Linked DNA regions of Homo sapiens. The protein of the gene in region 2 interacts with the protein of the main gene of each other region in a biochemical or structural test. Each region holds a gene or a part of one and is shown on either strand. Other genes may lie near its edges.

Region 1 (4,480 bases), on a different chromosome or scaffold from region 2:
TTGCTGAAGCCATTTCTCCGTGGTAGTCAACCTTCACTTATTATAATATAACTATACCATTTCCAGCCTTTTGTTTCCTAGATGTACTGTTAGGAAATGATTTGCCAGCTAGAGGTGAGTATTTATCTGTCTTGCAAAGGTGAAAGCTTTTGTAAGCTTCACAACAGAGGCAAAAACCATTATGGAGAGAAGCAATGAATTGAACAGCACAGGAAAGAAAGCCTTCTGAATTTACAGAAACTGTAAACAGTAACAAAAGTTAAATGACAAGAGCTTAAGGACTACCTCAGAGTAAAATCCCAACGTGGTTCACTGTAAGGAGGCACAGTGACTCCTACTGCTTTAAAAAAGCAGATGATTAAAAGGTAACTATGGAGCCAGGTGAGGTGGGACACACCTGTGGTCTCAGCGACTTGGGAGGCAGAGGCAGGAGGATCGCTTGAGCCTAGTTTGAGGCTGCAGTGATCATACCACTGCATTCCAGCCTGGGTGACAGAGCAAGAGCGAGACCCTGTCTCTTAAAAAAGAAAAATAGGTTAACTATGGAAAGTGATGAACATGTTAATTTGTTTGACTGCAGTACTATATGTATAACAAGACATCATGTTGTACACCTTGAGTATGCACAATAAAAAAATTAAACGAAAAAATTACTTGATATTATTTTAAAAACAATAAAATAAATTTATTTTATTTTTGAGACAGAGTCTCACTCTGTCGCTCAGGCTGGAGTACAGCGGCGTGATCTCAGCTCACTGCAACCTCTGCCTCCTGGGTTCAAGGAATTCTCCTGCCTCAGCCTCCTGAGTAGCTGGGATCACACCTGTGTGCCACCACACCCAGATAATTTTTGTATTTTTTGTAGAGATGGGTTTCACCCTGTTGGCCAGGCAGGTTGGTCTCAAACTCCTGGCCTCAAGTGATTCACCCTCCTCGGCCTCCCAAAGTGCTGGGATTACAGGTGTGAGCCACTATGCCTGGCCTAAAAACAATAAAATAAATTTGAAAGAAAAACAAAGCAAATGCTCTTCTTAGGAGGCCTACACAGATGACAAAAGGGGCACTGGTGGAAAGATGGTGAGAAGAGGCACAGGGCCCACGTGCCCACTTAGAGTGAGCAGAACAGCAGACTGCCTAAGTTTCCTTCTCTTGAAAAGGACTTCTCAAAATTGAATGCACACTAACCACTCAAGGCTCTTGTTAAAAATGCAGATTCCGGTTCAGCAGGCCTAAGCTGAGGCCAGAGATGCTGCATTTCTAATGAGGTCCCAGGTAACATGGGTGCTATGGCTTCAAAGACCACACTGAGCCGCAAGGTTATAGAAAACATGGTGATGTATATCTAAGCACATTCTTTGCTCTGGCAAAAAAAGAAACAGGACTCAGAAACAGAAACCTGTTAGAATTAGGGGGAAACAAACAAACACGAGGAATAACATGGAATGTATTTACTTACAGGTGACTCTGGGTTTATCCTTGATACCACAAGAGGCATCTTTTGATCCACTCCTCCCTGTAAACATTTTAAAATAAAAACAAAACAAAGTTTTTTAAGTTAAACAAACAAACAAACAAAAAAACGAGTAGCTCACAGCATCAACAACATGGAGGTACCAATAAATGTGAGTCTTTGGTACAGGGAGGCTTCAAACTTCACTATGACTGATTCGAATCACACGTCATTTCAGAAATATGGAACAAATTCCTGACCCCTCTGGATCCAGCGGGCTGACCAGGACTCTGTTCAGAAGCCTCCCTCTGCCATCCCCACAGTCCATGAACTAACAGATACACTCAGAGAGAAGCTCCTCCTTAAAAACGCAGATGCCCCCAGAGAGGGACTCCACAGCATGTCTTCGAGTGCTGCTAGAACAAACCTGCACGTTGTGCACATGTACCCTAGAACTTATAATAATTAAAAAAAAAAAAAAAATATATATATATATATATATATGGGCTTTATATATATATATGGGCTTTAATATATATATATATGGGCTTTATATATATATATATAGGGGCTTTCAGCAGAGGCGAGCGAGGCCTGGGAAGGGGGCACACCCTGTGAGCGCATCTGGCCTGTGAGCGCTGGTCCTCAACACAGCTGCTGGGGCAGATGAGGCTGTGCATGATGGCAGCTGGGGGGTAGGCGACCACCTGCCCTCACTTTGTCCTAGAGTAGGGATGAGTAAACGTTTTCTGTAAAGGGCCAGAGAGGCTTTGTGGGAGTGAGGGCTCTGATTCAACTGCTCAACTCTGCAGTCATTAACCCACCAGTAAACAAATGGCTGTGGCTGTTACCAAAAAAACTAGTTACAGAAACAGATGGGATTTGGCCTGTGGGTTTAGTTTGCAGATCCTGCTTAAAGGTGCCTGGAGGAGAGTGGTGGCCCTGCAGGTTGAACTTGAATTGTTTTTCTCTTATCAGCTTTAGCAATGCTGAGGGGTTCTCTTAATAGCATTCCTGAAGTGGGTAGATCTGTTTGCCAACTGTGTGCCCTCATTTCTGGGAACCTCAGTATTCATTTGCAAAATGGGTTTAAAAATACTGACCTTACCACTTGTTATCAGAACTTAAGAAGGTGCTATGAATCTAGTGGATAGCCAATGCCAGGCACAGAGCAGGCACTTGGCCTTCGGCAGCTGTTAAGGCCACATTAAAAAAAACCTCTCAATTCTAGGCTGGGTGCGGTGGTTCACGCCTGTAATCCCGGCACTTTGGGAGGCCAAAGTGAGTAGATTGCCAGGTGTTTGAGACCAGCTTGGACAACATGGTGAAACCCCATCTCTACAAAAAATATGAAAAAAATTAGCTGGGTATGGTGGTGCATCCCTATAGTCCCAGCTGAGGTGGGAGGATCACCTGAGCCTGGGGAGGTCAGCGCTGCAGTGAGCTGCGATCGTGCCACTGCACTCTAGGTTTGGGCGATAAAGTGAGTTTTTAAAAAAAAACAAAAAAAACCCCAAATATCTCAAACCAAACAAAAACAAAAAAAACCCCCAACTCTCAATTCTGAGGGTTGAACCAACTTCCTTATGTAGCTCAGGAATGCAGCACATTTGTAATGCAAATTAAAAACTCATTGAAAGATTGCTTCCCAGCACAAAACTTCCTTTATAAATACACAACATACCTTAAGATTAAATCCAAATTTTCCATCTTCATCTGGTGTGATACGGATCAAGACTAAGTAGCTGTCACCATTATCATTCTGGAAAACGGTTTGAAAGTGGTCATTTGCATCACATCTCTCTCCAGCAGTTGGTGATAAGATATTTTCATTTAGTTAGAGCTACTCAGCTGCCCACAAGAGGCCGGGAAGCCCTGGGTGTGTGGATCACCCGGCTGCCTGCGCTCGCTCACCTTGTCACAGTAGTACTGGCTGGCGTCCTCGGTGGAGCCCCCTTTGGTCACCCTGTGGAAGTCATCTAAGAGCTGCTGATCAACGCCGTCAGGTGAGCAGGAGCCTGGAGCATTTGAAGATGGAGACACAGAACTGGATGACTTCTGGGTCAGGTAGCTTTGTGCCGGATTGTTCTCGGATAAACTCCTTCATCATGGGGAAGGAGGAGATATTAATAACTGGGTTAATATTTTATTAGAGCAAACACTACTGACTGTAGGGGCCTGGCAGCTGGGGGCTGTATGTTTCCCTGGAACCTCAGCTGCATAGGTTGTCAGCGGGATTTGAGTACACCCAGGGCCCACTGACCACCCCTGACCGCATCTGGCCTAGACACTGTCACATGGTTTTGGGGAAAAGGGATAGGAGGCAGGGTGGATCTGGAAACTGCTGAAAACTTTGCTCCCTTCCCCGCTGCTTTAGAAGGGTGACAGGGAAATGTGTCCAGCTCCTCTGGTGGTTTCATTACTGAACCAGGCTCTGCCAGGCAAGCTCATGCAGATGCACAGCCCATCCCTTCTGAAAGCTTTTTTCCTTCTGTCTCACTTCTGCGGATGGTTCTGCTTCATAGGACTCTTGCCTCCTCAAAGGAAACAGGACTGTTGTTGTTGTGCGTTCAGGAGAATTTATATTATTCCTAGTTGGCATGATTTGCCTGTGACATCCATGAACTGCCACGCTGAGATCTTGTTACATTTTCCTCTATCGAATATAGTTTCTTCTGTATCGTGGAGCTGCACTGTCTAGTATGGTAGCCACTAGTTATATGTGGCTACTTAAATTTAAATAAATTAAGACAAGAAACCAGCCATACTTCACATGCTCACTAGCCATATGCGGCCAGTGGCTCCCGTATGAGACAGTGCAGTCAGAGAACATTTCACCACGGCAGGAAGTCCTGCTGGACAGCGCTGTCTTAGAGAGTTACAGATGATGAAAACGGAACAGAACTTTGTGGTCATTTGTTCTAACTCCCAGTTCACAGATGAAGAAGCTGAGGTCAGGAGAGGCTGAGTAACTTGCCCAGGGTCACATGGCTTTCCCCCGGCTTAGCAGACAGAAACCTGACCGATGTG
Region 2 (5,341 bases):
CCTTGTTTAAAAATATAGAATCTGAACAAGCCTCTAAACTTCACTACCAATTTATAGGAAATAGGGGTGAGAGGAACACATGAAAAAACATGAGGACACAAAATTCAGATGATGGGAAACTATACAGGATGAACTACCCAGCTGCCCTTTTTAAACAAATAAATTTTGAGGAAAAAGAAAAAAAGATGAGGAGAGAAACTATAGATTAAGAGAGATAATCGAATGCATTTTATGGACTTTTTGGATCCTGATGTGAACATACTAAAAAATAGAAATTTGAGCATGGCTAAATGTTTAAGATTATTAAGAATTTGCATTAATATTTTAGGTGCAGTAATAGCGTGGTTAAGTATGAAAATATCTCTAAGATGAATATTCAGTTATTTAAAGTAAAATGTCATGTTTACAATTTAACATACTTCAACAAAAAAAAAGGAAACAGATGTAGCAAATATTGCAAAATGTAAATATGTTTAAGTCTAGGTGATATGAATGAAAACTCTTTCTTTTTTTTTGAGACAGTTTTGTTCTTGTTGCCCAGGCTGGAGTGTAGTGGCACGATCTCGACTCACTGCAACCTTCGCCTCCTGGGTTCAAGCAATTCTCCTACCTCAGCCTCCCAAGCAGCTGGGATTACAGGTGCTTGCCACCACACCCGGCTAATTTTTCTTTTTTTTGTATTTTTAGTAGAGACTGGGTTCACCATGTTGGCCAGGCTGGTCTCGAACCCCTGACCTCAGGTGATCCACCCATCTCTGCCTCCCAAAGTGCTAGGATTACGCACGTAAGCCACCGCACCCGGCCAGACTCAAACTATTCTTTATCTTCATAATTCTATTTCTGGAATGCTAACCTAGGGCATAATCAAAACTAAGAGAGAAGAAAGGAAAGAAGAGAGGTAGTACATCGTCTTAAGATCTGATTTAATAGCTACCAGCACTCAGTGAGAAGACACTCATTTTTTATAGATAAGGAAGGAAGGCATGGAGAATTAAAATATATTTCATGCAGAGAAAAATATACAAGAATCAATGGAAGATTTGAATCCAGACCTGCAAGGCACCAAGACATGACAGGTTGTTCTGTTTGTAAGTAATTTAGAAACAACTTAAAAATCTAACGAGGGGGCCGGGCGCAGTGGCTCACGCCTGTAATCCCAGCACTCTGGGAGGCCGAGGCGGGCGGATCACGAGGTCAGGAGATTGAGACCATCCTGGCTAACACGGTGAAACCCCGTCTCTACTAAAAATACAAAAAGTTAGCCGGATGAGGTGGCGGGCGCCTGTAGTCCCAGCTACGTGGGAAGGCTGAGGCAGGAGAATGGTGTGAACCCCAGGGGGCGGAGCCTGCAGTGAGCTGAGATCACACCACTGCACTCTAGCCTGGGCGACAGCGAGACTCCGTCTGAAAAAAAAAAAAAGCAAAAAAATCCAATGAGGGTATAGTGAAGTACATAATAATTTGCCTCCTAGGAGTTTTGCACAACCATGAAAAATGAAAATGACACTTTTCTAAGACTTCTAACAGCTTAGTAAGGTGCCCGTGATGTGTTAAGCAAAAACCCAGATAAGAATTCCAAGAGAAAAAGAAGATTGGTATATCATTTAAAATGCTACAGAAAGAGGCAGAAATAAAAAATGAACTGTCTTTGTCTGAGGGTTGAAATTTTCTGCTTTTATAATTAGGGCAAAAATACGACAACTGGGAGTTGGGGAAGAAATGCTACCATTTTTCGAGGCCCAACCCACCATCACCATGTTTTAAAATCACCTCCCCAGGCCCCTTTACTTACGCTGGGAGCTTCTCCCTCTTGTGAGGTCCACATGAAGTGTGCCTCCCTCTCGCATATCACCTCCTGCCTCCCCTGCCCTGTGTGGGAAGCCCTGAGAGCAGGGTCCTTGTCCCAACAATTGGTGTCTGCCACAGTACTTTGCACATAACTGCATATAACAAAAACTGTTGCTGAACTGAATCCAGTAGCTTCCTTCCAACATTGTTCTATATCCTCTCAATTGAATGAAGCTCAAATACTACAGGTGTCTTGGGAAAATGGCAACAACTCGCACCACCCAGGAGTGGGTGCTTCCTTAAATTCTGCACCCTTGGTACCTCTCTTGCCTCCACCTAGTCCAGGTCCTGCCCCAGGGGATGTCCCCATGCCTGCTTTTAAGAACACAGTGGCATTCAGGAGCCCACAGGCACCCACCCTAGCTCTGACCTAGGCTACATAACCTCAATGCCCACCAATACCCAAAATGAAGCGAAGCTTAATGAAGACTACAGTCCAGCCACTTTAGCCTCCAACCCAGTAACAACCTACACTCCTGATGGAGTCTTTCAATTTGTTTTTATGTCTCTACAAACTCAGCTATAGTCAATCTTCCTAGAAAATGACTGGAATTTCCCTAGAAAGTAATCTGACTTGGCTAGAAATGTCACAGCACATGTTTCACCTAGCTATTATGGTCTGGCTAAATAACCTGGATGTTAGTTTATTGCCCCAAACCAGGTTCAAAAGATAACAACAAACCTTCAGCCAGTGTTACTGAAGAAAATAATAACAGCCCCAACATGAACAGCAGCCAGGCCTATCAGGTGGATGTTCAGTCAATATTCACAGGGAGGAAAGTGGCTGTGAGGCTCCCAGGGCTCACCAATGCTTGTTCACCTCTTCATTTCTGGATCCCAGCATCTGGTCAAATGCCTAAGGGGTCAGCTGAGCAGCTTGCCAGCCCTGTTACTACAGCAGGGGGCAATTCTGGCTCACAGATAGCCGAAGCCACTCGAGACAGCAGAGACACAGGCCAAAGCCAGGGCCAAGTGGAAGTTGGGGGCTTGCCATATACATATCTGAACGCATCTGCATCCTCAAACTTTCTGACCTCTCACACTGTTACCAAGCCACACAGCAGACAGGCTTCCTTCCCCATCCCACTGTGATAACAGCGGCCCAGGCAGCAAGGAGAACTGCATCCCAGCCTGGTCCAGTCCACCACACAGAGCTCATCCACAAAGGGTGAAGGGTGTGGAGCGGGGAGGCTAGATTGGATCATGGTGCTCCCTCTGGGCTCACAGATATACCTGATCCCTGGGACAAGTCACTCCATGTTCAAGGGGTGGCAGGGGAGTGGAGGTGCTGAGGACCCATGACAGTCTGCAGACACACAGGGAACTCCCTCTAGAGAAGCCCCCTGTTCCCAGGGGCTGATCTCACACATTCCCATGCATGATCCTGCAGAAGCTGGGTGGGGGAGGAGACGGGGCTCCATGAGACAATGGACAGTAAGGAAGGACCACACAGGCACCACCCAGCTTCTCTTTTATCCACATGTACCATCCATAAGGGAGTCCTAGCAATTAGAAGGCAGCTTCTGTATAGAGAATTCCCCATTGCCCATCCTTCTGCCAAAAAGGAAGAAAAATAATAAAACAAAGCAGTAACACTGAATTAGTCATTCTGGATTGCCCTTCCATTGAGACACGTGCATCACATTTAAATCCTTTCCCCAACTGCACACGAGATTCCCTGCAAAGAGCTGAAAGAAAGCGCCTGCCGTACCTGGGCTCACACAGGAAGGCCGTGTTTTCCCCGTCTGCTCTCCATACAAGCCACTCCCTGAAGGACGGGTGGCAGAACATGCGGGTTTTGTCTCGCCTCTTAATGAGGAAGCAGGAGAGGGCGTCCATCCTCTGCTGAAAGTCTTCCCATCCCTGCTCCCCCTGGATGTGGCCAGCATTAATAGCCTGAAAGATCTGCTCGTCTGTCATGGGGTGGAGGGATGCGAGGGCCACGTTGAGAATCGGAAGTGCCCTCTCAAAGGCGGACTGGGTCATGAACTTCATGTTGCACTGAAGCAAATAGAGCTCAGAGAGAGACACGGGCACCACCTTGTAGCTGGCACTCTTAATGACCAAGTGGCCCCTCTGGAAAAGGTCCAGGGTGAGCTTGAGGTACAGGTAGGAGCCGAGGCTCCGCAGCACCAGGTGGCTGCTCACTTTTCCAATGAGTGTGGCATCGGCCTTGCCATTCAGGGAGATGTTGCTGAGGATGTCCTGGCTGCTGTGCACCCTGTGCTGGACGTAGGCGTGCAGGTCACTGTGGATGTCTTTGTTGTCTGGGAAGTCATCTAAGGAAAGCTTGACAAATGGCAGCGCACTTATGATTTCCTGGGGGAGAAAACAAAAACCCACAGTGTCACTCTAAAGAGATTCCTTTTTTATTTTAACAGCATTTTAAACCAGATTCACTAGTTTTGTTTCAAGGAGGATTTTCATGGATTACAGGGACTCATTGTTTTGTATTAAAACGTGTAATAGGATAAGGTGAAGATAAAAAGCTTATGTGAAAGAAATCCTGATGGGAGATGGAATCAGTAAGTGCTATCCTGAGGCCCTCATCCAAGGACCCTGAGCCTAGCAAGCAGAGTAAGAGCCCTGTGCAGACAGCGGCAACGAGGCCAGGGCCAGTAAGGGCAGTGAGACTCTGCAGGTGACCTGATACCCATAATCCTTACACTGTGAAACTGCTTATATAACAAGGACAAACACCAACCAACACTGCACATCTAAGAACACGGCCAGACGCCAAGATAAAAGACATCCTTCTTTATGCAGCAAACACTGGGGCTGTGTAACCCAATCAGGAAATCTGAGTCTGCCCCTGGGCTGTGTCTCAACGACAGCGCATCTTAACAAAGCTGCCTACTTTGGTATAGCACGTTATTTTATGAATTGCTTTTTTAAAGTAAACTTTTAAATTGAAGTCTAACAATGAACATATGATTTGTGTACAAATGACAATTGCACAGTGTCACTAATTTTCACTAAGTCAAATATACCTATGTAACCAGCACCCAGAAACAAAACATCCTCAGCTCCCAGAAGCCTCATGTGCCCTTCCCATCTCTTCCCCATTCCAAAGATTAAGCACATCTGACACCTAAAAGCAAAGAAGAGTTTTGCCTTTTTAAAAAGACTTCCCACTATTGTTTCTGAAGTATTTAAATGCACGTGCTCATTTAATATAACAATGTAGATAAAGAGGGCAGAATACAATTATTCCCATTTTACATGGATGCTATCTGAAGCTCTGAAAACTTACACAGCTGGGAAGAAGAACGTAAGATTCCTGGTTCCTATGATCTACTGATGGACAAATTGTGCTTACTATGTAAAAAATGACTGAAAAATATACAAACTGAATGTCCAAAAAACACGCATCAAGTTCAACTGAGGTCTAATTTCAGTTTTTATAATGAAAAAATTCCAAATGCTGTTTTTAAATAAATATCATAAAAGGGCAAAAATCAAAACCTAATGTCTAAAAGTCTTCACTGAAAAA
Region 3 (4,480 bases), on a different chromosome or scaffold from region 2:
TGGTCCCTGGACTTCTCTTTGCTCCTGTCACTGTCTTTTCTTTCCTGTTGTTAGCCTTGGGAGATGCATTTTGAAATACGATTTGGAAACCATCCAGGTCAATTTGATTCAGATGAAGAGGATGCTGCTGAAGGAAGTATGGCTTGTAGTACATAGGGAGGGACTTGGCAGACCAAGAGGGCTCTGGGGACAAGTACGAGAGGGCCAGGGGCTCAGGATTGGAGCTGTGCCTCCCAGTTGGTAGCCTGGATGTGGCAGGCCTCTGGTGGCCTGACTCAGTTGGCAGCTCAGTGTCTCGCTCCTGGAGCATTTGAGTTTTGTGCTGCATGTGACCTCTCAGTGGTGTGTTCTGAATTGGAGTCTCTTTCTTGTTGGCTTGCAGAGGGAGTGACATCCAACACCAGTGACAGCGAAAGCAGTTCCAGTAAGTGTGTGTCATTCCTTCCATGTCGTGTAGCTCCACTGTGTATCCCAGCCATCCTCATTCCAGTGTTGCACAGCTGCCATTGCTGCTCAGAGGCTGGTGCTTCTTTTAGCCATGTACACTTTGAGATCCTAGAAATGCTGTGGCCAGTTCATTCTCCTTATGGGTTGGGGTTCACCCCATGGATTAAAGGAGAGTATAAGCCCTATAGTGCTGGCCGGGACCTGACTTAAAAGCATCCCTGGCACTGGGAAGGGTAAACTGCCAAAGAGTAAATCCCTGCCATGGGTACTGTGGGCCATAGGTGCTGCCAGGTTTATAGATTTGCTCAGAGACCAAAAGAAAAATGGCTCCTCTAGGACACTGCCCTAAATCTGCCTTTCCAGGTCATTAGGACCTCTTTGCCTTTGGGGCCAGTTAAAGGATGAGGTAATTGCCAAGTTCTCCTTGGGAGATCCTGTGACCAGACCAGAGAAACCGTAATTCAAACCTCATGAACTTTGGGAGCACTGGTTTTTCAGGAGCTATGGTGGCTAGAAGCCTTGTAAAATCTGCCCAGGAATATTAGGCTCAGAAGAAGCCTTTTAGCAAGCATTGTGTGCCTTGATGCAAATATCACTGTTTTCCCTGGGACTGCCATCAGCCACTTTGGGACCTCCAGGCACCCAGCACCGAGTGGCTTGACGACTGTTTTAGGAAAACCTCAACATTGCTAGGCTCGACATGGGGCTCCACCAGGAAGAGACAGCAGGTTCAGCATTGCTCTTAAAGGGCACTGGGGACCTTAGCAGAGCCATGTGCCACTTTTCTGGATGCTGCTTCCAATGCAGGAGGTGGGTTGGTAGACCTTTAAAAGGGCAAAGTTAGGCTGCTTGGGGACCTGGGTGTGTGCCCTGACTCCCCTGCATGTTGATGAAGGGGACTCGGGCAAGCATCTCAACCAGTCAAAGTGTCCCTGTCATTCTTACCAGAGCAAGGGGGCTACTGCACACAGCTGACTTGTTACCTACAAGAAGAGTTCCTCACAAATTGGGGTGGTTTGGGGTGGAGGCTTCATGGCTTCTGGGCCTTGGCCCTTTGCCCAGTGATATTTCACTGAACAAGAGAACTGCTGACTCCTGTCTCAGAGCCAGTGAAGGGTTTCATGTGCTTTCTCACCAGCAGAAAACAGAAAGGATCACAGGTGGTGGCAAGGACCACCTGATAAGGCTGTGTCCTGGCAGGGGAGGGGTACGGGGAGTACTGTACAGAAGGAGGCAGATCATATGGTGCTAACCTATCTCTCTTTTTTGTTGCAGAAGGACAAGAGGATGCTATTTTGTCATATGAGCCAGTGACACGGCAAGAAAGTAAGCCTCCTCTGAGAGCCTTGTCTTCGTGCTGGTCTCCTGGTCGTGGGGCTCAATACAGTGGGTGGCTGTGGCAGCAGAGGGAGGGACCTGGAGGAGGAGGAAGGCTTGACTCATGGCACATCCAGCCCCTGGGCTCCTTCTTCTCTATGCTTCTTCCTAGTGTCATAGGGAAGGGGGTGCATCCAGTGTGCACTTCTCTCTGTGCCTTTGCCTGCTGCCAGGACACCTTCCAAAGGAGGGGGCAAATTTACAAGGAAAGTCTATTTCAGTAGATGTAGCCACTGCTAAAAGAGAGGTCCAGGTTCTTCCCTTCAGTGGCTGCTCTGCAAAAACCTTGCTCAGTTACTGGTGTCAGTGCAGAGATTTTTTCTGACTCTGTTAGAAGGGGAGCAGCTTCCGGTTTCAGACTTGCCTTGAACTTAGATATTCTCAAATTAAAGGCTCTTTGATGTCTTTCTGTTTAAAAGCCAGACAATGTCTGAGGATGCTTTACCCTGTCTGAGTCTCTGCTCCAGAGCCTCTGTGTTCTAGCCAGACTCAGGGGTAGGACAGGCTGTCTGGTGGGGGCCTCTGTTCACTGTCTCGATGCTCTCCCTCTCTAGTTCACTATGCAAGGCCTGTGATCATCCTGGGCCCAATGAAGGACCGAGTCAATGATGACCTGATCTCCGAATTTCCACATAAATTTGGATCCTGTGTGCCACGTAAGAGTCCAGGAAGGCCCAGAGGAGTGAGGCTTGGTGCCCTGGGAATTGTTGCTCTAATGTTTTATGGAAAAGGTCTGGGATCAGATTCTAGGGCTATTTGGGGACAGGGTACATTTGACACGCTGGAAAACAGTAGGTGGCAATATATTCCCCAAAAGCTGATGGGGTTGGAGAGATTAAGCCATCAGGCTTGGCTGCTCACTCTTGAGGGGAAGTTTCAGTGGTGATGGTTGAGAATGATTGGACAAATACGGAGGCCCAGCCAAAGTGGTGTTGATGTGACTCCATTAACAGTTTGTTAGGTTCACTGTCTCCTCTACCAAGTTTGGCACCCTCTGCCATGCTTTAGCTCAGGAAACCCCACCTTTCTAGTCCAGTTTAAGCTAAAGCAAATAGCCCCCTGTGTGAGACCTGGAGATTGGAAGAGAAGTAGGCCAGACAAACCGCTTCCCAACTGCTTGTTTTCTCCCACTTACTTGAAAAAAAAAATGGAGTGGCCCAGTGACCCACCCAGATGAGAATGGACCAGTCAGTATTTTTTGGTTTGGGGCGGATCACTGCCCCTGGGCCACAAAGCATTTCCTTTCTTCCTTCAGATACTACCCGGCCTCGACGTGATAATGAGGTGGATGGACAAGACTACCACTTTGTGGTGTCCCGAGAACAAATGGAGAAAGATATTCAGGACAACAAGTTCATCGAGGCGGGCCAATTTAATGATAACCTCTATGGGACCAGCATCCAGTCAGTGCGGGCAGTTGCAGAGAGGGTAAGTGTACAGGAGATGGCCTCAAAGGGGAGGCCAATGCTTATGCCAAGGTTCCACTTGGATCCTTATCCTTCCAACACAGGAGCTGCCCAACAGTGCTGCTGACCAAAGCCATAGCACATCTGCATACTCCCAGCGCCTTGACGAAGCTATCTGTCTCCTTCATACAACTCACCCCAGAGCATTACCCAACAGGGAATAGGGGGCCCTGGACAGATGTGGCCTTTTCTGGGTAATAGGAGCAAAAAGTAGGGCCTGTCTACTTCAGAGATCGAATTTCTTAGGCCACTTTGGGTGGCCCTCGTGCCCCTCCCCTCACCCCCACCCCCGGCCAAGGTGGATGTTTAGAATGTCACTGGATTTCTGCTTGGGACTTGGTGAATAGGGAGTGGCTGGGCTGTTACAATCTCTGCTTTTTCAGGGCAAGCACTGCATCTTAGATGTTTCCGGCAATGCTATCAAGAGACTGCAGCAAGCACAACTTTACCCCATTGCCATTTTCATCAAGCCCAAGTCCATTGAAGCCCTTATGTAAGTGTTGAACTGAGAACTCAGACACACCAAGCTAAGATCGGGTCTGGAAGGGAAATGGAGAAGAAAGTGATTTGCTGGGCAGAAACTTGAAAGAAACTCTGTGCCCCAGCTCTGGTCACTGGGCGCTCCTGTTTTGAGGGCTTGTGCATATGTTCATGGTTGGACTTTTGAACGCAGGTTTGAGGAGTTAGCTACGGGCCACTGCTGCTCTGAGAGGGCAGCTTAGCAGATTTTTAGGGATCCTGGAATAATCCTTTATGGTTAATCAGAACATAAGATCTGGTTCAGAACTATTTTTCTTCTGTCTTTGGCAGGGAAATGAACCGAAGGCAGACATATGAACAAGCAAATAAGATCTATGACAAAGCCATGAAACTGGAGCAGGAATTTGGAGAGTACTTTACAGGTAAGACTCCTGCTGCCCTGCGGGGGGTTCTGGGGAACTAGCCAGGTACCTGTTTCTATAAGTGTCTCAAAGAGGTGTAGACAGAATGTAGAAACCTTGCACGGAGTTTCCAGTTGCTTTTAAGTTTTTGAGCACAAACCTTTCCAAAGCACACAAGTTCCCCGTGTCCAGCCATAGCAGTTCAGCCAGTTTATAGCATAAACCACTCACCAAATGCTTCCTTGAATTGTTGGTTTGTTCATTTTGTCTTGTCCTTACTAGATTGTAGGCTCCCTGTATTACTCTGTC
Region 4 (4,480 bases), on a different chromosome or scaffold from region 2:
TGCTGACAGTTTAAGTCCCCCAGAGCGGGGCTGGCAAGGGTGACTGTGTTCAGGGTGAATCTCCAACCATATCCATCCTTCCCCCTGCTAGTAAAGAAGGCTGACACCCAGACTGCCCCAAAGGGAAATTTGAGTACTGGGCAGAGAGATCAAAGAAGAACAGTAAAATACCCATGTAAAGGGCAGAGAGTAAATATTTTAGGCTTTGCAAGCCATGTGGTTTCTGTCACAGCTATCCAACTCTCCCAAGAGCAGCCACAGTATACAAACAAAAGGGCATGGCTGTGTTTAAATAAAACTTTATTTATAAAAATGGTCATAAAGCTTTCTAAAATAAGTAAACACATCAGATGGGTTAAGTTTGCCAGCCCTGGCCCTAGGCCATGAAGCAGGACATCGCCCTGAGCCACAATTCAGTTGGGCATGTTTGGGATTTACACCAAAACTAATTCCAGACTCCACCACTGTATAGCTGAGACTGCTAACTGCTCCTGTACTAGGGTAAAGACCGGTGACTTGGATCGTGAACTTCAAAAGAGACAAATATCCAGGACTCCAGTTACAGGAACCATTGTAAAATCACCATGGTCAGTATGTTATCCAATGTTGAATCAATACAACAGCCTTGAATCAGCCAGATGGCCGCGTGTTCTCCCCCACACCAGTCTCTGACCAGATAAATAACTGTGCCAGTTCAATAGAAAAATACACTCATTCCTACATTCATTAGGAAAATTTTACCATTAATTTTATGAACTTTTGCCTACTGCTTTCTTTGAACCTCATCTTTGTCAGGTAATCATGTTCTTATTTTCAATTAAGCAAATCTCATAAAACTTGTGAAGCCTATAAAAAATAACCAAAATAAAAATTAAAACCCTATAGTAAATTGTAATTGCAGGGAAATTACTTTTCATTTTCAAACTTTGGAAACATTTCTTTCATAGAAATGATTGTGTTTTCCTAGCTTTCAAAAAAGACTTTCTAAAATAAAAACTTACTGACATCTATAAAAACCCATTTCAATATCATCATAACTTTGCTTATTGAGCTTAAAGCAGTAAAACAGAGACTCCTTGGAAATACAAGTTGATGACTTTTTAACCATCAATCACCAAATATATATATTATATTTTATATATATAATATATATATACTTCAAATGTAAAAACAGAAATAAAAGTTTATTCTCTGAGACCAAGTCCAAGAGCAGGCTATTTACTTTTAACATGTACATTGTATTCCGTTATATTCAATAAAGAAGTACTGACATGGTAATTGTTCAGCTAAACAAATATGACAATTTGTTTGCAACAAATGTTAGAATGAATTGTATATGACTTCACTCACTAATTATTTAGTATAGACTATTTATCTTATGCCAAATTCTGTAAACCATACTTGAAAATATATTTCTGAAAGAACAGTTCTGGCAGAAAACCCTTCTCATCTCTTTGCCAGGAAAAAAAAAAAAATGGGAATGTTAACTTTGTTATCTAAAACTAAGGCTTAGATTTCTTCAAGATAATTTTCAGAGCTTAAGTACATAATGACCTAAATTACTCAGAAGCAAGGCAGCATACTTTTGATATATGTTTTTGCTGTAAAGAACTAAAGGTAGTCTATGATTTCTCATTATAATGCTCTCAGTCAAATCATAGGAAAGTTAGATTAAACTCAACTCCAAATTGATACAGCCTACCTCCATTCCTCTGACTACAACTAAATCCACTTATCTGGTTTTATTTCCATTTGGAAACAGATTAGTGAAGGTCATTAGCCATTAGGACCAGATGGCTCAAGTGTACTGTAAGGAAATACTAGGCATTCTCCTGTTGACTTGATTATCAGTTCACCAGCACACATTGGTTGAGGCTATACAAGTAGTATCACCCATTCTTTTTCCATACATTTTGAACTGGATATTTATGGAAGGCAAACATCACCTTAACAAGCAACTCTCCAGCTCCCCAAAAATATCAGGTCAACTTAGTGACCAAAGAATAAGCATGCATAATTTTTCCAAGTGCAACAAATTAGTAGGACAATTATGTCCACTTCTAATGGTCAGTTTCCAACAGTTCAAGAAGTAATTTGAGATCAGAAGTTTCAATAAAGATAAGGTCTATATTAACTGGTAATGTGCATTAGTGAATTCAAGTATTTATTATAATATGCTCAATTTGACGTGTGTGCCCGCATGTGTGCTGATAATGATAAAGAAGCGAAAACAGGAAAAGGCATTGTTTAACCCAGGGGTCAGTGAATTCAAGTATTTATTATAATATGCTCGATTTGACATGTGTGTGCCCACATGTGTGCTGCTAATGATAAAGAAGAGAAAACAGGAAAAAGGCATTGTTTAACCCAGGGGTCAGTTAACTTTTTCTGTAAAGAGCCAGAGAGTAAATATTTTAGGCTTTGTAGGCCATAAGGTCTCTGTGGCATCTATTCAACTTTGCTGTTGTCAGGCAAATGCAGCCATAGATAATACATAAATGAATGGACATGTGTTCCAATAAAACTTTATTTATGGACACTGAAATTTTAATTTCATATTATTCTTTTTTTGATATTTTTGAACCATTTAAAAATAAAGAAACCATTCTTTGCTCACAGGCTATGCCATAACAGTCAGCAAGCCAGATTTGGCTCATAGGCCACAGTATGCCAACCCCTGTTTTAGCCTATTCATAATTTTCTTTTCCTGCTATGATTAGCTTTCAAGATTAAAGATCATTTGATGGTAACAGTGGTAGATTTCAGGACGGTATGCTTAAACAAAGATTTTAAACGGTCTTGAGTTTTCTTATTGAGCCAAGTGTGAAACCAGTGGTTTCAAGTTCATTCCTTAAAGATACATTTCTAGTTCACCAATAATGTACATTCTCTTACAGCTAAACTTCCACGGTTAACCTCAAATGAAATAACAAAGTACTAAAGTTGAACAGTGTATGTGTATGTAAAGGGGGAGAATGAACAGCTGGAAGGACCATAAGCAGAAAGTGAGACTTTCCAGGTCATGCATTTAAAGTACAAGTAAGTTTCACTGCAGCTGTCAGTCTGTACCAAATTCTGATAGCAAGAAGGTGAAACTCACTTGCCCCAGACAATAAGAGAGAGAGAGAGAGATGCTTGAAATGGTACAAAGCCTGACCTAGACGCCTTCTTCCCAGAACTGCGAGCGACTAGACTTTCACAGCTTCAAACTAGCAACTCTTGGGAAACTAGAGTTAAATATTCCTAAAACAGGAATCTAGTTCTGTTATGAAACTGTTCATCATTTCACCTCCTGACAGTCACAAAAATCAGCAGAACTTAGAAAGGATTCAGAAGATGAGCAAGTAGCATTTTTAATAAAATTCAAATCCAGAGTCTTTGGGGTTTTTTCATTGCTAGCCTCCAGAGCTCACTATTATCAGCAATATTAATACAATTACTCAGTAAAAATAGGGGATATGGGAAAAACCCTGACCTTTTGCATTACTTCTTTAACTTCCCCTTTTCCCTGGGAAATATTTAATTCTGAATAAGATAAAGGTAAAAGACAGAAGTTTAGTAGTATCTAAATGGACTTGACATAAAAATCTAAGGAAACTATACATATGTATTTTGTATTTTTCCTCAAATATAAGATACTTGTAAGAAAATTAGCATTCTAATATTAGATATTAGTCACTGCTATATACCACAAAATAACCCATGCAACTATAAGAAAATGCAAAGTAAAGCATTCCCCAAATTTACCTACTACTATAAGAAATCATCATATCAACAGTGGGGACTCAATCATTATCATCAAGTCTACCGTTTTGCTTAAAGAAAAGAAGCCAAATCAGGGACTTAATCTATGAACATATCACTCAATTTAATAACATCCCTATGAGTTTTGGATCTCAAATCATCTCCCTCTGGCAAAAGGGGCATAATCATATGTTTTTCTACTGGACTGCATTCTTCTATAAACATTTGAAAGAATGCATCTGCTTTACAAATAAAATAGTCAATACAAAGAGCAGTAACAATAAAAATATATGCCTGTTTTTATACTATTACTGGTTTATAAGGCAATCATCTGTAATGCTCTCATCTACAAGGATGGAAAATAATATAGAACTGTTACCAAGGAAACAGTGAAGTAAAACTGCATGTAAACTATCAAGCAGTTTAAGAACCAGAAAATTAGAAGAACGGGAAAAACCATCTTCAGATAGAACCATGACACACTGTGCCACCCACGAAGGATGCAATCAAGGGTCATAACTCTAACTGATGATGTAAAGGGTGCCAACTACTTACCAGCAATTCCAACACTTGGCAGCAATTTTTTTTTAATGGTACTGGGTTATTGAGGGGCACTGTCAATTCTGATTTTTCCCACGATTAAAAGGGTATAGATTCTGGAAACGAATAGTTAAATGTAGACACTCTAAAAAGTCAAAATATGCAGTTTATTTATTCCAGTGTCGAATAATATTCT

The links. The genes of interacting proteins can lie anywhere in the genome.
Region 1: the proteins of TANC1 (region 2) and PTPN3 interact in a test that uses a peptide from one of them, tested with the Homo sapiens proteins (one large-scale study listed by IntAct).
Region 3: the proteins of TANC1 (region 2) and DLG3 interact in a test that uses a peptide from one of them, tested with the Homo sapiens proteins (one large-scale study listed by IntAct).
Region 4: the proteins of TANC1 (region 2) and FRMPD4 interact in a test that uses a peptide from one of them, tested with the Homo sapiens proteins (one large-scale study listed by IntAct).

The regions. Positions count from the first base shown.
Region 1 is NC_000009.12:109,406,865-109,411,344, forward strand, and holds part of PTPN3 (tyrosine-protein phosphatase non-receptor type 3), read right to left. Parts: intron 3,552-4,480; coding exon 3,365-3,551; intron 3,213-3,364; coding exon 3,135-3,212; intron 1,514-3,134; coding exon 1,457-1,513; intron 1-1,456.
Region 2 is NC_000002.12:159,177,382-159,182,722, reverse strand, and holds part of TANC1 (protein TANC1), read right to left. Parts: intron 4,168-5,341; coding exon 3,560-4,167; intron 1-3,559. UniProt on the Homo sapiens protein: May be a scaffold component in the postsynaptic density.
Region 3 is NC_000023.11:70,496,798-70,501,277, forward strand, and holds part of DLG3 (disks large homolog 3), read left to right. Parts: intron 1-382; coding exon of another isoform or gene 383-424; intron 425-1,722; coding exon 1,723-1,773; intron 1,774-2,378; coding exon 2,379-2,480; intron 2,481-3,079; coding exon 3,080-3,252; intron 3,253-3,673; coding exon 3,674-3,783; intron 3,784-4,100; coding exon 4,101-4,192; intron 4,193-4,480. UniProt on the Homo sapiens protein: Required for learning most likely through its role in synaptic plasticity following NMDA receptor signaling.
Region 4 is NC_000023.11:12,141,436-12,145,915, reverse strand, and holds part of FRMPD4 (FERM and PDZ domain-containing protein 4), read right to left. Parts: intron 1-4,480. UniProt on the Homo sapiens protein: Positive regulator of dendritic spine morphogenesis and density. Required for the maintenance of excitatory synaptic transmission. Binds phosphatidylinositol 4,5-bisphosphate.